Regions from separate parts of the Homo sapiens genome. Here region 1 is linked to region 2. Evidence: fine-mapped expression QTL. A gene starts in region 2. The other region holds a variant in brackets. All regions are shown on one strand. Distances are from middle to middle.

The links.
Region 1: its variant is fine-mapped to the expression of LPCAT1 in whole blood (TOPMed, PIP 0.94).

Annotation. Positions count from the first base shown.
Region 1 is chr5:1,489,729-1,497,728 of GRCh38, reverse strand. LPCAT1 (lysophosphatidylcholine acyltransferase 1) reads left to right here. Exons shown (of 14, transcript NM_024830.5): 3 at 2,815-3,029; 4 at 7,871-7,983. LOC124901162 (a long non-coding RNA gene) reads right to left here. Exons shown (of 2, transcript XR_007059103.1): 1 at 5,056-8,000; 2 at 2,210-4,257. Among named protein-coding and RNA genes, the nearest start is that of MIR6075, 17 kb to the left of the region's middle. RefSeq lists an enhancer at 2,593-3,792. The variant C/A (reference allele first, on the strand shown) is at 3,312.
Region 2 is chr5:1,519,857-1,529,642 of GRCh38, reverse strand. It overlaps LPCAT1 (lysophosphatidylcholine acyltransferase 1), which reads left to right and starts at 5,683. Exons shown (of 14, transcript NM_024830.5): 1 at 5,683-5,933. The coding sequence starts at 5,799. RefSeq lists a cis regulatory region at 4,291-4,526, silencers at 5,296-5,695, 5,716-6,025, 6,296-6,495 and an enhancer at 7,656-8,160.

The sequences.
Region 1 (8,000 bases), 31 kb after region 2:
GCATCAAACCACTTTATCTGGTCTCCCAGAAGCCAGCAGCTCCTGCCACCTGCGTCTCAGCCTGGGGCTGCCCCTCCACACCTGCCAGCCCAACACAGCCCTCCCACCAGCCACCCAGGGGCCGTCCCTGACCCAGCTAAGCCAGTCCACGTGGATCACCAGACTTGCCTCCTTGAAGCCCCGCCAGACGTGGCCCCAGGGCCCCTTCCTTTGCCCTACCCCACCGGCCTGGCACCGTAGCCAGCACTCAGGCTGTGTACATGTGTATAGGTCCTCTCCAGGGCCGGCTCCACTCTGCCTCTTGCCTCTGCTCACAGCAGAACATTTGGAACCTGCAGAGCCGGGGCCTGCGCCTGCCCCTCACGCTTAGACGTGTGGGCTTCCCCCACCCACCTCCACATGCCAGCTGGCTTGAGGAGATGCAGGCCTCAGCGGCCTTCCTCCTTTTCCCCCTGCATGTTCTGGGAGATTTCCTCCTCCTCATTTCCCAGTCTTTCCTGTGAGTTGCTTGTCTCCACAGTGACAGTCTTGGTTTCTGAGAGTGTTTTCTTGTTCTTTGATGCTCCTCAGCGCCCTGTTCTTCCAGACTCTCTTGGCGAGCGTGGTGGATGTTTTGCACCCCTCTTCTGATGCCCACCCTTTCTGTCTCCTTGGGGTCAGTCCTCTGCTTCTCTGCCATGCAGCTGCTCTGCTCACACGTCTCAGGATTCTTGGGTGTCGTCCGTGTGAGGGCGGTAGGACGGAGTGGATTTCCTGGGGGTGCTGATGGAGATCCCCGCTCCTGTGTATGCAGATAGATCTGTCTCCTGATTCACATTCCCCTGGGAATGGGCTGCCCAGGCACCTGAGCACCCTGGGCTTGTGCTGGCTCCCTTTGCCTTGGGGTGAGTGGGTGCTGGGTCCCCAACCCCACAGCAAGCGGAGCTTTTCTCTGAGGCTGTCATCCACACCAGCAGTCCGGGTTTTCACATGTGGATAGTTTGGGTATAAAATTCCTCCAAGATCTTTAGAGAAGAGCTGAGGCTGCTTTTTCCCTGCCCCGACACCCAGTACAGTTCCCCTGAGCACCGTCTGTCCCTGCAATTCGATTTCGGGGCTGGCAGGTGTGTTCCTCTAAGGGCCGCCCGGGTTTTAATCCCTTTTTTCCTGCTGTCCTCTCTCCTGCCCCTGAACCTGCCCGAGACTGGCTCCTGTGCCCGCCGCAGCCTCCTCTGCAGCCTCGCTTCTCCCTCCGCCGCTGCCTTGTTTCTTCCATCTTAGGCATCAATTGCTGTCTTTTGGCTTTTGTTTTTGTACTTTTTTTTTTTTTTTGTGGAAAATAACATGTGCACAGAAGAGTACATCTTTATTTTTTAGTTTAGTTTTCTTGAGATGGAGTCTCACTCTGTTGCCCAGGCTGGAGTGCAGTGGCGCAATCTCGGCTCACTGCAACCTCCGCCCCTTGGGTTCAAGCAGTTCTCCTGCCTCAGCCTCCTGAGTGGCTGGGATTACAGACGCCTGCCACCATGCCCAGCTAATTTTTGTATTTTTAGTAGAGACAGGGTTTCACCATGTTGGCCAGGCTGGTCTTGAGCTCCTGACCTCAAGTGATCCACCTGCCTTGGCCTCCCAAAGTGCTGTGATTACAGGCGTGAGCCACCATGCCTGGCCAGAAAAGTACATTTTTAAATATGCAGCTGAACAGGTGGTGAAGAAGTGCACACCTGTGTAATCCCCCCTCCTCTAGACAAGCAGCACCCTGGGTTGGTCCCCAGCATCTCCATGTGTAACTACACCATTGTTTATCATCGCATACACAAAGGCCATTCCAAGGTGGCCCCACGAGAGGAGGCTTTGTGCCCTCCTAGCAACCGCCTTGGCTCAGATCCATGGGGACCCCTGTCCTGGAAGTCTTCTGGGAGGATCATCTGTCCCAGGGCAATGTGAATCCAGTAAGGCTTCAGGCTCTTGTTTCTCTGTGCAGTAGTTTTACCCAGTGTGATGCGCCCACTTAACCCAGTGGCCGAGTGAGCCGTGGCTTCTCATGAGGCTGAATCATGTTCTCTGTGTGCCTGACCTGTGGCTTCTCACACACCGTGGCTGTCTGCTGCGTGTCAATTCCCTGAGGTGTGGAATAACAGCCTAATCTGTAGCCTCATATGAAAGAGAATACACACATTTAAAAGGCTAAATTTGTACCTATTTTAAAAAGAGATAAAGAGTACACAAATTCAGTTAACCTAGGCTGATTTTTACTTTATTTTCCAAATTTATTGGCCATCTAATTTCCTCCAGAAACAGCTCACTGTAATAACACAACGCCTGGTTGTGGGAACCCCGGGCTTCCTGTGGAGATGAGATGGGGAAGTTCGCACGCAGGTCTCAGCTTCCGCCCTCAGCTCTGAGCGCCCCCCCCCCCATATTGCGATATGCGTTTTAGGTGTTTTAATGTTTTTCCCATTTCAAAATGATAGGATGCTGATAAATAAGTTGCTAACATGAAGGTCCGGAGGTCTTCTGGCCTGGGACTTGTGCTGTCTGTGTTCCGGAGTCTCATGTTGTCTTAGCACTGCCTGCCGCGTGGCCCGTGACCACCACACAGGGCCCCGCGGCCTCCTTCGTAGGTGAGAGCGCAGCCAGCGAGGACACAGGCGGAGGCCAGGAAGGCGCGGCGTCTTTTCTTCCCTCAAGCAGATGTCCCAGCGGCGGCGACCACAGGAAGCCCGTGGCCTGGACTGCGCCCTGGAGGGCTCTCCCGTGGGACCGCCCCTGTGCCTCACACAGACTCCGAGACTGCGGACGTGTGCCCGCGTGACGCAGCGCCCTCTTTTGCAGGGTTGTGGACTTCCTGCTGAAGGCCATCATGCGCACCATGTGGTTCGCCGGCGGCTTCCACCGGGTGGCCGTGAAGGGGCGGCAGGCGCTGCCCACCGAGGCGGCCATCCTCACGCTCGCGCCTCACTCGTCCTACTTCGACGCCATCCCTGTGACCATGACGATGTCCTCCATCGTGATGAAGGCAGAGAGCAGAGACATCCCGATCTGGGGAAGTGAGTGAGACACCCCTGCTGGGAGTGAGGGACCCTGCCCTGCTGGGAGTGAGAGATCCCCCTGCTGCTGAGAATAAGAGATTCCCCTCCTGCTGGGAGTGAGGGTCCCCCCTCTGTTGGGAATGAGTGAGACCCCCTCTGTTGCTGGCAATGAGGGACTCCCTGCTGGTTTTTAGGGACCCCCCCTTCTGGGAATGAGAGATCCCTCCCTGCTAGGAATGAGGGACCCCCACTTGCTGGAAATGAGTGAGACCCTCCCTACCGGGAGTGAGGGACCCCCCC[C/A]CCACCACGCTGCTGGGAGTGATCGAGCCCCCACCGCCGGGCACATTGGCCTTGTGCCCCATTTTCTGTGTTGGGGTTTCCTGTGTAATTTTCGTTGTTGTAATTGTTATTTTTATTGCTACCTGAGTGCCCTCACTATCATAACAGGCTACAGTGCTTGCTCCAGGTCTGCTTGGCAAGGGTGGCTCACCTTTATCAGATGGCAGTTCTGGAAGTCTTTGGGAGCAGGTCGGCAGGGCTGCCCATGCACCGCGGCTGTGCCGTGAACCAGGGACCTGAGCACCTGGTGCTGCCATGACCCCTCCCCAAAGCCGGGGGCTCACTCCAGCAGAGATTCACCCTCTCGTCATCTGGGGACCAGATGTTCAAAATCAAGGCGTCTCTGGGCCGAAGGCCCTGTGCGGCCCCTTCCTGCCTCTTCCTCCTCTGGGGGCTGCGTCCCTCTGACTCTGCCTCAGTGGTCGACTGGCCTGGCTCCCTCCAAGTGTCTCCTCTATGAGTCTCTTATAAGGACCAGTCATTGGGTGATCCAGGATGCTCTCATCTTGAGATCCTTAACGAGTTACCTCTGTAAAAACCTTTTTCCAAATAAGGCCTCATTCACAGGTTCCAGGGTCAGCATGTGGACCCATCTTTGGGGGCCGCATCCCATGGACCCACTGCTCTGGGAGGACTGTAGGGAGCCCTGCGTGGCCCCTCACCCACCTGTGCGCAGCCCTGACCCACCAGAGCTCTGTCCTCGGTGCTCTTCAGGGCATCTGGGCCCGTTCTGTCCTCGTGCTTCCTTCACAGCCGCCATCAGCACAGCACAGCACGTTCTGGGGCACAGCGGGTCCTGGGTTGGCAGTGGGCGGTGCTGAGGGAAGGAGCTGCTGGGACGAGGGGCGTCGCCTATGGCCGGGGCCCTCACCTGGCCACTCCTGCCGGCTCTGTTTCCATGCAGCACCTAACGTTAGCATTCATATGACAGTTTTCTAGAAAATATCTGGGGGGACACATTCAGTATGGACTGGGTGGGGACACATTCTGTGGTGCTGACCACTGAGGGTGGTGGCCACAGCTGGGATAGGAAGGCTGGAAGTGGGGTGAGGAACCCTGGCATGGCCCATGGGGGATTGGGCCTGCAGCAGCCGGAAGGTGTCCAGACTGTGCCTGCAGCTGGGCAGTTGTGGGTGGCCTGAGTCTGCCTGGGTCAGGCTTGGAAATCGGGGATGGTCCTTGGTGGGACTGGAGGGCTCACTGCACTCGGCTGGCTGGGGAAGCCTGGAGGAGGCTGGACAGGCCGGCACTGGAGGCGAGACTGGACTGCAGGCACCATCCGAGTGATGGCCTTGGCTCTCACACGCAGGTTTCCCCGCTCTGCAAGCTCCACAGGCTCATGGGGCAGCCCCAGCTCCACTCAGCACCCTTTGCATCCTGTGGTTCTGGCATACCCAGGAAACCACATTTGCCCCCCCACTGTGGCAAAGGCCCATGGTCGTTCGTCATCTGCTCAGGGAGGGGGATTGTGGAGCTGTGTGCCCAGGCACCCTCGCAGCTGCAGGGGTCCTTGGACAGGGGGGCTGGCCCACCCAGAGTGAATCTGAGCGTTGGCCGGGCTCTCCCTGTGCCCTTGGTGCCTCCCTGTGGAGATCACCAACACGAAGGAGTGTTTGGTGCGGTGATGCTGGACGTTGTAGTCCTATCTTTCTAGAGGCCCGGGATTCCACCTCTTCCAGATCAACCCAGGTGACCCAGCACTGACCTTCATCTCGGCGCAGCAGGAAGAATGGCCACAGCCATGCTGCTGTGTGCAGGGCCCTCGTGGAGCCCTGCGTGTTTCTTGTCATTTCAGAGATAATCCACGGACCTGCGAGGGAGAGGATAGTGACAAGCTTATCAGAAATTTTCGTTAGAATTCAGACTTAGCAGGAACCACATTTTGCTCCCTGCTGTCCTGGCCTGAAAGGGCCATTGTCCTGGGGCGTGGCTGATGACTCCTCTACTGCGCACCTGGAGCACCCTCTGATTCGGGAGCTCAGAACCATCTCCCCAGGCTCCAGCTCAAAACCATCTCCCCAGGTCCCAGCTCAGAGACGTCTCCCCAGGCCCCAGCTCAGAGACGTCTCCCCAGGCCCCAGCTCAGAGACATCTCCCCAGGCCCCAGCTCAGAGACATCTCCCCAGGCTCCAGCTCAGAGACATCTCCCCTTGTCCCAGCTCAGAGATAATCTTCCCCCATCCCAGCTCAGAGACATCTCCCAGGTTTCCAGCTCAGAGACATCTCCCGTGGTCCCAGCTCAGAGATAATCTCCCCTGGTCCCAGCTCAGAGACATCTCCCTGGTTTCCAGCTCAGAGACATCTCCCATGGTCCCAGCTCAGAGACATCTCCCTGGTTTCCAGCTCAGAGACATCTCCCCTGGTCCCAGCTCAGAGACGTCTCCCAGGTTTCCAGCTCAGAGACATCTCCCCGGTCCCAGCTTGTGGTGACTTCTGGTTCCTTTCGTGGACCCTTTGACAGCTCACAACTTTGTTGAAGAGATGAATGTTGAAAATGTTCAAAATATTTTCATTTTTAGATGTATGAATACCAATGAAAGTGATCAACCAGGTAGATTTTTTCCTTTTCACATTCTTAGTTTCCTTTCAGTGACCTTCATATCCGCACCATCCATTTACAAACCTTGTCAAGGAAAGTTTGAGCCTCAAATGCCCAAAAGACGGCAGAACGCTGTCACCTTCTTGCTGGCAAAATGCGCCAGTCCCAGTGTGGCTGTGCACACGGCGTGGTGACACCCTTCCCTCCTCAGGGCTCCCGGGGAGGAGCTGCATCTCCTTGCTGTCCTCACTGCCCAGTTCTCAGCGTGAAAGGCACACCGGGCAACCCACATGAAGACGCACGGCCCAAGACTTCACTCAGAGTCCTCCCCCTGCACCCCCCACATTTACCCCCGGACCCATCTGAGTGTGAAACGCCCCCACGTCACTGTTCTGTTCTTTGCCGTTATAGACAACTTCTGAAATCTCTACTCTGTTCACAAAACAAACCAGCTGACAGGATTGCGAAGGTGGCAGGGTGGCATCTCCAGACCCCGTGTGCCCCGGGACGACCATGGGACGCTTTGGCCAAAACAGTGGGCACCGAAAGACCACGCAATCAGGGCCATTTCTTTGACGCGTGCGCCATCCTGCGAGACGACTCCGCCATTCTTCCCTTCCGATATCGTCCTTTTTAGCAGAGTTGGGAATAACCAATGAGCAAGGATGAAATAGTACTGGAATCGTGAAAAAGCAAAATGATTCAAGACATAGGAAAGACCACAGAGACCCAACAGACAACCACAGGATAGAAGGAATTTTCTTTTTTTGGCTTCAATTTTCTCGTTCTTGGAGGAGAGAACCTCCAAGAAAGAATAAAAGTCATGAAATGCTACTCCTTACAAGTAATAAAAACGCTAAGAAAAGAAACTGGAAACTGAACTGGGGTGGGGAGGTGGGGCTGACCTGCAGCAGCCTAGGAGCCCGTGGTGGGGTCAGAGACACCTTCAGTTGGCCTGGGGGGCGCCGAGTGTGGATCCTGCTCACCGTCCTCAAAAAGGAAGCTCCACTCAGGGATAGTTTCATTTTAAAGTCTTCAGAGTTTTCTCTTCTAAGAAGTATGTTTCCACGTTCAATCCTCTTGCATAAAGACAGGTGCCGTGGCCACGTTGCCTTGGCTGAGCACCAGCCTTCATGGCGGGGTGTCCCTTGTACCCCAACCCCGCAACTTCCAGGAGGCTGTGGGGTGCCATGGTTAAACTGGGGCTGTGCTACAAAGCACCACAAAGCTGGTGGCTTAGAACAACAGGAGCATATTCTCCCGCCGTCTAAAAGCAGAAGTGCCAGAACAAAGTGCTGGCCGCATTGGGCTCTTCTGAAAGCTCCCTCGGCCCTCCCGGCTCGTGGTGGGGGCTGTGGCCACATCCTCCTATGGCCTCCTTCATCATTGGCCTTCTCTCCCCCTCTTCGTCTCCTCTTCCCATAGGGACCCTCATCTGGGATTTTAGCTTGAGCATCTGCTTTGTCTCCTCTTCCCATAGGGACCCTCATCCGGGACCTTGAGCATCTGCTACCACCTGTTTCGAAATGAGGTCCCATTCCCGGTACCAGGAGTGAGGACTTCAGCTTGTCTTTTAGGGGATGCAGTTCAACCCACAGGGGGAAGGCGGGGTCCAATCTAGGGACCTGGCACCTTCAACCCTGTCCTCTGTGAAGACTGGGTCTAAAGACTTTCTGCTTCCTGGCGGTTGTCTTTCATTGACCTCCGTTCTGTGCTCCGTGTCCTCAGTGGGTGCCATGGACTTGCTGTTTGTTACTTGTGGCACTGAGGCTACAGGGCTTCCTGCTGTCACAGACATGGGAAGCCCGGGTGCTGTTCCCGTTCCCTCAGTCAGGGACTCACAGCCCACCCATGGCACAGCCCCTGGGGCATCTGGAGTCTCCCGCCCCACTGGGCGCCATGCAGCAGCCCCCTCGTTCCTCAGCCCTGCCTGGCGGGAGCCGTGCATTCCACGTGATCCGTCTCCCCTCCTCTCTTCCAGCTCTGATCCAGTATATACGGCCTGTGTTCGTGTCCCGGTCAGACCAGGATTCTCGCAGGAAAACAGTAGAAGAAATCAAGAGACGGGCGCAGTCCAACGGAAAGTGGCCACAGGTAATGCACGTAGCCCT
Region 2 (9,786 bases):
TGTTTGTTTGTTCCTGGATACTTCAGTTTCTTGACAAAATGATTCTAAAATTTTGGCTGGGCATGGTGGCTCACACCTGTCATCCCAGCACTTTGGGAGGCCAAGGCGGGCAGATTACCTGAGGTCAGGAGTTCGAGACCAGCCTGGCCAACATGGTGAAACCCCGTCTCTACTAAAAAATATAAAAATTAGCTGGGCGTGCTGGTGCATGCCTGTAGTCCCAGCTACTCCGAAGGCTGAGACAGGAGAATCGCTTGAACTCAGGAGGCGGAGTCTGCAGTGAGCCGAGATCGGGCCACTGCACTCCAGTGCAGTGCAGTCTAATTTCAAGACTAATATAAAGCTTTAGTAATCAGTATAGTGTGATGTTGGCAGTTGCAGATGTACAGATCCATGGAACAAAATACAGAGTCCAGGAATAGACTCAACTATACATATATGGCCACTTAATTTTTTTACAAAGTTGTCAAGGTAGTTCAATGGAGAAAGAATATTCTCTTCAACAAATGGTGCCGAAACAGTTGAATATTCAGACGAAAACATTTGAAACTAAAAAACCTCTGCCTCCACTTTACTTTATGCCGTGTACAAATGTCAACTTGAAATGGAATACAGACCTAAATGGTAAAGCCAAAACTGTAAAACTTCTGAAGTAAGAAAATCTGAATGACCTTGATGCAGGTAAATATTTATAAAAGAGGATACCAAAACCATGATCCCTAAAAGAAAACGCTGATAAATTGGACTTCATCAAAATTTAAAATATCTGCTCTTTGAAAGACACTATCACTGCTTAACAAACCATCTCAGTCTGTAGTGACTGAAAACCACCACAATTTTCTGTTTGTCATGATTGTGGGTTGAATAGGAAGTCCATCCATTGTACATGATGGAGTCCCTCACTCTGGGGCTGTGCACTCCTCATCTGGAACATCCACAGGTCCTCTTGTACCCTGGGGTCTGTCTTCATACAACCTCTACACAAGCAGTAGTGGTTCTCCATATAATCCATACTGTCAAGAGTAATTTTTTTTTTTGAAAGAGAGTCTCGCTCTGTTCTTGCCCAGGCTGGAGTACAGTGGCGTGATCTTGGCTCACTGCAACCTCTGTCTCCCAGGTTCAAGCAATCCTCCTGCCTCAGCCTCCCGGGTAGCTGGGACTACAGGCGTGTGCCACCACACCTGGCTAATTGTCATATTTTTAGTAGAGATGGGGTTTTGCCATGTTGGCCAGGCTGGTCTCGAACTCCTGACCTCAGATGATCCGCCCACCTCGGCGTCCCAAAGTGCTGAGATTACAGGCATGAGCCACCGCGCCCGGCCCAAGAGTAATTTTTGAAACGATTATTACATCACTGCAGAAGTATGAAGCATCAAGGAATTAACAAAAATACAGAATCTTTATGTAGAAAAATTTAAAATGCTATCAAAGGGCATGAAAGAACATCTAAATAAATGGTAGAATAACCATGTTGGTGAAAAATCGTTCTCAAAATTATAAAGTGTCCATGCCACATCATCCATTTAAAAAATTTTTTTTTTGTATTTTCTAGTGCTTTGAAGCCTTGGAGCCTTGGAGCCTTGCTGGCCCTTCGAGGGCCCCTCCCAGGACCAGCCAGCTCTTACTGAAGTAACATTCTTAGGGAACAGGGAGAATGAACAGTAAGAATGAAGTAACATTCTTACTGAAGTACCCTGTACAATTAATGTGATTCAAAAGGAAGCTTCCAGCGGGAATTTTTAGCAATGGGGACAACTGCTTCCAAAATTTGGATGGAAAAATAAAATTCCCTGAATTCCTACTACAATTCTTGGGAAGAAGCGCCAACAGGAAGGAACCCCCTCTACAGTTACTAAGGCAGACGGTTGAAAGGTGTGAGACAGGAGTAAAGGAGTACGCGGACCGGCGGGTGAGACGGGAGTAAAGGAGTACACGGACCAATGGGTGAGATGGGGCAGCCAGAAGGAGCTTCAGGAACCCTTCTTTCTGTTCATGCTGGAAGTGGACCCACAAGTGGGAGTCTGTGATTGATACGTGGTGTTGAGAATATCAGGTCTCCATGCAGAGAAAAAAATCTTCAAATAGAATAAAATGCAACCATGAAAGGCAGAACTGAAAAAAGATGTTAGTAGAAAATGAAGGAGAATATCTTTTTCTATCCTATAGATAACTCTAAAATTCAAAAATTAAACAAACAAAACAAAAATACTCAGCCTTACCAGAACAAGCAGGTACCTTGTGTTCTCAATGCACTTGGAGTATAGGAAACACTTCTCTGTGAGCTTACACTCTTAAAACAGAGACAAAACCAGAGCAAGAAGCCTCAGGGGTGTGGTTACCAGCCCCAGGGAGCTGTGGGGGGCTTCCAGGAGGTTCCTGAGAACCACAGTGGGGGCTCCCTTTGTAGCTAAAGGGCCCTTAGGGTGGTTTTCCCAAAACTAAGTCCTAATGAGAAACTCATGTTTCCCCTGCTAGACAGAGAAAACTGCTTATACCTCCCCACCCAAGACCAACTTCTCTTAGTCAAGCTTCCAGACCCTCCAGGTCTTAAGAACGTTCCATTACATAGCAGAACCAAAGCCTAAGTGTGAAGGCCCAGTGTGGGTGGAGGAATTTCCTTGCTGCTCCTCCACGCTTGCGCTGATTTCCCCATAAGCAGCCCCTCTCCCCCACCCCTCGCAGTCCCCAGGAGAAAACTGACTCCCACACACAAGAGTGCCCCAGCTCCCCACCCCCTGGGCACGTGCCCTGTGGACCATCCAACCCCTTCCAGCTGCAGCAGAGAAGGAGTCCCCGCTCCGGGCCCCAGGCCTTTCCTTCCTCTGAGCGCAGAATCCTTCCAGACTGAGATGGGCCCATGACACCCCCTCTCACAGGGGTTTTCAACGTCTCCTGTGAGGCTGGCCTGTTGCCTTCCACCCAGGAACATGTCCTGGGCCCCTTCCTTGAGCTGCTGCCCTGGATCCCAGCCTCCCGCCAAGCATCCATTTTCCTCCTCCTGCCCATCACGCTTCCTCCTTTCTCAGGTAGCTGGGAAAGAACCTCTGTAACTCCTGCCCACTCCACAGCACCCTGCAGGGTGGTGGTCTCCACCCTTGCTACTACCACTGGCTGGCCTTCCCAGTTCTCTCCTGGCCAGTCCTCCTGGATGGGGCAGTTCCGTGGACTCAGCCCCTCTGGGGACCTCCGCTCCTTGGCCGCTCTCTGGGGCCTTCTTGGGTTCTGCTTGGTGAGGACGAGTGTGCCCCAGTCCTGCCCCCTGCTCTGCACAGCCCTTGGCCCTGTCACACCCACCCTCCCAGCTGTGCCCCCTTGTGTACTGACCCCGGAGCTGGGCCTCTGCGCCTCCTCCACATGGTGCCTGTGACCCAAGGATCCACTGAGCTTCTACACCAAGGCCACGCTGCCCACAGTGGCTCCACCTAAGACCCCTCTGGGAGAGGGACTCCTCTTTCCACCGACCTTGGCTCAAGGACAACCTGCTGACCCTGCTTAGATTGCCGGGCAGTATGAGGTTCTTCCCCCAGCCTCCCCACCTCCTTCCCTGGGTTCCAACTCACTTTGCACTCTGCAGGTTAAAGCAGAAGGAATTTATTCTCTCCCAGTCTGGAGGCCAGAAGCCTGCGATCATGGCACCCTAGGCCTAGGCTCCCTCTGAGAGCACTAGAGAGGACCTGCTCCAGGCCTCTCCAGCTCCTGGGAACTGCTTGCCTGTAGCAGCAGAACCCTGGCCTTCCCATGGAGCTCTCTCTGTGTCTGTCTCTGAGACCGAATCTCCCTCTCTATAGGGACACAAGCCATTTCAGACTAGGGCCCACCCTAATGACTTCCTCTTAACCTGATCATCTGCAAAGACCCTGTTTCCAAATAAGGTCGCGGCCACAGGTGCTGTGGGTTAGGACTTTTGCATCTTCTGGGGACACAGCCATGACTCTCTGGCAGCTCTCCCCATTGAATCTGGCTCTGCACCATCTCCAGCAGGTTTCCCCTCCGCCACACACCGCTTCCTGGCCTGTGCTTCTGGGAGGACCCCACTTTCATGGCTCTCCAAGTCCAGTCCTGAGGCTGCTCTCATCCCAGGACTGGGACACCCTAGGGCCCCTCCTCTCCAGAGCACTCAGGCAGCAGGTGGGGCCGCCTGGATCGCTGGGGTGCAGGTGCTGCCCTGTGGCTGGCAGGCTTTGTGTCCTGGGCTTTCTTGATGATCAGTTCGGTGAGGAGCCTTGGGTGGCCTCGGGTGCTGGGCTCTGGTTTTGGGGATCAGAGCAAGTGGCCACTAAAAGCCCAGGAGGTGGGTGCAACGCTGGTGGCTGGGCCACAGAGCCACCAATGCCCACCAGCACACAGGGCTCACCCCATCCCCGTGGGTGTGGCACTTGGGACAGGTGCTGCTGCTAGGCATGGGCTGGGACTCTTATGGGGCAGGAATATGGGCTGGGACTCTTATGGGGCAGGAATAAGGCCATGCAGCGGGTCTGGCCTGCCGGGGCCTTCTCTGTGCATGATATGTGGATGGCACAGACCCCTGGCCCTCACCCCGGTCTCAGACACAGAAGGGTCTCTGCCAGCCCGCTGCACTATGAGGTCCACAAGGGCGCAGGCAGGGTCATTGGAGGGGTCGGGGCACTCCCTGGCGTCTGCTGAGGATGGGGCCCAGCTGGGGCCAACACAGCAGTGACATCCCCAGGAGCCAGGACCCTGGGGGGTTGGCCAGGTGGCCCAAACCGGCTCTGTCTGGGTGAGGTCCGTTGGCCATGAAGGAACCAACAGGGCCAGCCGGGGTGAGGAAGCCGTGAGCACTGTGACCGAAGGCCTGCGTGAGTTCTGAAATCCAAGCGTGTTCACCCGGAGGCAGGAGCCCATCCTACTCTCGCTCCGGCTAATTATGGGCCCCACCCTGGGGCTCCTCACACGGCTCCTGAGCACCACAAGGGCAATGCCCGAGCCAAAGCAGCTACGGGTGAGAAAGCGCTGGGATCTCATCGCAGCCCCTGCACAACCAGCACGGACAGTCAGGGCCCCTATGTGCGCCTCCTGCCTGGGCCATCCCTGCGGGGCCTGAGGCCTGAGAGGTCCTGAGATCGGAGGGGTCCTGAGGTCTGAGGGGGTCCTGAGGCTTGAGGGGTCCTGAGATCTGAGGGGATCCCGAGGTCTGGGGGGTCCTAAGGTCGAGTGGACCTCAGGCGGGAGTCGCCTGGGCTGAGGCGCGGCTGGAAGAAGCTCCCTCAGCCCGGGGCAGCTTCCAGGGTCGCCGGTGCGAGCTAGGAGCCCAACGAATAAGAAGAATGGCGTGGGGCCTTCGCCGGAACAGCCCGGGGCTCGGCACCCAGGGCCTGGCCCGCCTTGCGCGTAAGCTGGACGCGTGCCCGCCCCTTCCTCCCTCCCCGCGAGCAGGCGGGCCGAGCGGCGGAAGGGGACGACGTGGCAGCCTCGCGGGCCCGGGGGACCTCCCTTTCTCCTGGCGCAGACCCTGCCGGGGATCCCTGTGCTCCAGTGGCTGCAGGAGGCGCCCCCGGTCCCCAGCGGCCCCGGCCCCCCACAGACCCCAGAGAAACCACCAGGTAGCGGAACTCCGGCTGGTGCCGCCCCTGCCGGCCGGCGGGAGGCGAGGCTTCCAGGGACGCCCCGCCCCGGCCGGCGCTCCCGCTCCGCCCACGTCACCTCCCGCGCCTGCGCGCCCGGCCCGCTCCAGCCGCCGCGCATCCTCGGCCCGCGCCCCGAGACCCGCGCCCAGCTAGCCCCGGCCCCGCTCGGCGCCCCAGGCAGCTCGGCTGCGCTCGCCGCGGGACGGCGCGGCCATGAGGCTGCGGGGATGCGGACCCCGGGCCGCCCCTGCCTCCAGCGCAGGGGCCAGCGACGCTCGGCTGCTGGCGCCCCCGGGGCGGAACCCCTTCGTGCACGAGCTGCGCCTCAGCGCCCTGCAGAAGGCCCAGGTGGGTGCCCAGGGCGCGCGGCCCCGGGAGCCGGCGCGGACGCCAGGGATGCTGGGGCCAGGGAGGCGCGGCCGAGGAGGGGCCGGGGAGGGGGCCTGGGGCGCGGCGCGGCCCTGCGAGCCGCGGCGCCTTCCCTCCCCGCGGCCGCCCCTCAGTTCGCGTCCCCGCCGCCCGCACCCGATGCCTCGGTCTCGGCGCCGGCTTCCCGCCGCCCGCACGCGCATCCTGGTCCCTCAGCGCCTTCCTCGGGGTCCCCGCTTCCCATCCCCGCCCCGCGTTCTGCTCCTCCCCCCAGACCCCTGCACCCTGAACCGGGCCCACAACCCTTTCTCTGCCTCCCAGAGCCCCGACCTCGGCTCCCGCGGGAGGCTGGACCCGCATCGCCGGTCCCCGCGCTCGTCCCTGGTCCGGGCCCCGCCCGCCTTGGCAGGCCCTGCGCGCAGCCCGGGGACTCCGGAGCGGCTTTGCCTGGACGCGGCCCGCGGGCGGGAGGGCACCGCGGCTCTGGGTGAGCCTCGTGTGCGGGGCCTGGTGGTGCCCGGGACAGGGCGCGCGGGCGGTGCGGGTCCCCTGTAGGGTCCCCTGTAGGCGCACGGGTCTCCCTGCTCTGCGGCCGCACGTTGCCTTCTGGGGTGCATGCTTCGCTCCTGTTGTAAGGGATGCTTTCTCGGGGCTGGTCTGACCCGAATCAACTTTATGCAACCTGGGCTGCCACGTGGGAGGGAACGGTTTGCTGAGATCCTGCGATGGGACAGTGGTGAGGGGAGACCCGGGGGCGTCGTGGGGAGGGGGCCGCTCGCTGCAGGAAGCTGCACCGGGGATGTGCTGGCTCAGCCTGGCTTTTCCGGCTACCTGGCTGCCAGCTGGGCTTACAGTTACCTGAGATCCACTCTCAAGAGGACCTTACTTTTGACTCTAGAATAATTCCTAGAAGCAAGCACTGTTTCGGGGCCTATGGGGCTGTCCGGTTTGTAGGGAGCACGCTTCCAATTGTGAGAATAGATTTCCGGGAAGATGGAGATTTGTTAATGCATAAAGTACTTTATCTGAAAGAACCCTGAAGTGAAAAGTTCTTGAGGCCAGTTTGAGCTTGTCATTTTCCCAGGACGCCTGCTTTTGCTCAAAGCCCCTTGATGCGGCTGGTCCTCAGGGTATGGAAGGGGACGGGGAGCAGGAGAGCCCGATGGTGCCGCCCCTCCTGGTGACACACAGGGTGAGGTCGTCCCCAGCCTGGCTCCCAGGCCCTGGCCCCCGTCTCCCTGTGTGTCGGGAGCTGGACTCTGGGGCTGGGGCGGTGCCGGCCCCTCTGCCGCCGCTCTGCCTGGCCCTCTGTCTGCCACACGCTGTCAGCTGCCGTGTGCTGTGCCCCTCAAAGGAGGACTTGGGACACGGTCGCTCATTCTGTGCCCCTCAACCATTCCTCCTCTTCAATCCTCACCCCCACCCAGCCACCAGGCTCTCTCCCTGGTCACTCTCCCTGAGTCACTCCCAGCAGGCTTTCTTCCTCCTGCACTCTGCTGCTCGGAAGCCCTCAGCGGGGACGCCCCCGGATGAAATTCGAACCCCTGCTGTGGTTTCCAGGGCTTCCCCAGCCCTGCTCCTGCCCCAGCTATGGCTGCCTCAGGCATGCTCTCTCTTCCTGCCTTTCCTACTCCCTCCTGGCTCCCTGGGGGGAAACATCAAGCCCCTCCCTGGAGGTCCCCGGAGGCCACTTCGTCATCCCTGTCATAGTTGCAGCCCCCGGTTGAGGTGTGTTCTGTCCAAAAGTGTGCACCCACTGCCCTGGCGAGAAGCAGGGCAGAGACTCTCATGGGTAGGTACAGATGTCAGGGCACTGCCAGAGTGCCCAGAGGGGCCTGCTTTCCTCCCCGAGACCTCAGGGTGCAAGCTGCTCCCAGTGGCTCTTGGGCAGGGGGTCATCGAGAGGCTCCTGGTCCCGAGATTGAAGGCTTTGGGCAGCTGTTCTCCCTTGGGCCGAAGCCAGGCAGAGATCCTGGCTTGAGGTGTTGGGGCCTCTCAGAGAGGGGGCTTGCTTTGTTGCCACTTCAGAGGTTCCATCTGAGGAATTAGGTGTGTTTGTACATCCAGTCGTTTCTGCTGGATGTCTGCAATGTGTGGCTCAAGGGTTTAGTTTGTAAACGTTCTCAAAGTTCTCTGCAGAAACATTTTGCTTTTCACCAAGCATTGCTTTGCAAAGCTTTTACTTTGATGTGATATATTCTTGTAAAGTTTCCACAGAGTGAAATAGCCTGTCTTTCAAGCCAAGAAAGCCTTCTTCCCCAAAGAAAGAAATGGGTCCAGTAGTGGCTGACACACTCAAGAACCCGCAGAAACCCAGCTAAGTTCCCAGTTGAGATAAACCAGTGAGTACCTGCATTTACCTGTGAGCATTTGCCGCCTGGGAGGGGCTGCTGTGTGTCTTCGGATTAGCGCCATGCGGGGACACCTCCTCCTCCAGCCAGCCCATCTGTCATTTAACTACAGATTTAGTGAGGAGCTTAAGTATCTCTTTGGACAGAAAACAGCACATTAAGATCTGAAAAGAGGTATCAAAGCCATCAGGGTCTGTAATACGTGCAATGTTTTAATCCTCTGGCTAAAGCAAGGATATAGATTTAGTAGAGAGCGGTAAATGGTATGGTACAGGATCTTAGTGAGTTCAGCTGAGGTTCTTCATAGTCACACATTCATATATCGTTTTGGAGTCATGAAGTGGTTTCTGTCACCCAGGGTTTTCTCGGTACTTTCCTTGGAATCTGTGGGTATGAGTATTTCCCACTATGGTTCTGATGCGTTTTCCCCATTTCTTTTTTTTTTCTTTTTCTTTTTCTTTTTTTTTTTTTTTTTTTGAGACAGTCTCTCTCTGTCGCCCAGGCTGGAGTGCAGAGGTGCGATATCGGCTCACTACAAGCTCTGCTTCCCGGGTTCACGCCATTCTCCTGCCTCAGCCTCCCGAGTAGCTGGGACTACAGGCGCCCGCCACAATGCCCGGCTAATTTTTTTTTGTATTTTTAGTAGAGATGGGGTCTCACCGTGTTAGCCAGGATGGTCTCGATCTCCTGACCTTGTGATCCTCCCGCCTCGGCCTCCCAAAGTGCTGGGATTACAGGCGTGAACCACCGCGCCCGGCCCATTTTCCCCATTTCTAAAGTCTCTGCTGCTCGGAACCAGAGTTGGCAAGAACTTACATCCTGGAAAGCATAATGCCTTCCTGTGCACCTTGGAGCTGAGTCCTTGGACGGGCGTTGCTGTCTCAGAGTGGAGGAGGCTGCTGGGTGCCCGCCTGCCCACGCTGGCTAATCCACAGAGAGGATTATGATGAGGGTTGAGTCCAGGGACAGATTCTGCCCCTCCCTGCCTGGTGGCCCTGCATAGAATTTACCCAAAAGTGGGCCATCTTTTTCTCCACATTTTTATACAAATACCTGAGTTGTGATTTTTTAAAAAAACTCAGGAGCAGGACTCCGCCCTCTCAGCCTCGCTCCTGAGTCCAGCATGGCCACTGCAGAACAGGAATTCGTGTGCCTGCACACGTTGCCAGGCTCCTCACGTGGATGGCTGTGTTTGCAGTGTGTTCTTGACCCTTGGTGCCCTCCAGGCACACATGCACGGGGATGGGGGTTCCTCAGGCTTCTCTGAGCTGCTCCTGCTGCCCACTGGGTCCCTGGGTGCTGCCTGCCTGGATTCAGTAAGACTGGCTCTTCGCTCAGCCCCATTGCCGGGCAGTGGATGTGGAGGGGTGGGGTGGGCCAAGGAGCCCTGGGCAGTGTACCCGGTGGGAGCACAGGGCAGCCACACCCTGTGGAGGATGTGCAGGAGAGTGCCTGTCCCTTGGGGAGGATGGAGAAGGCCA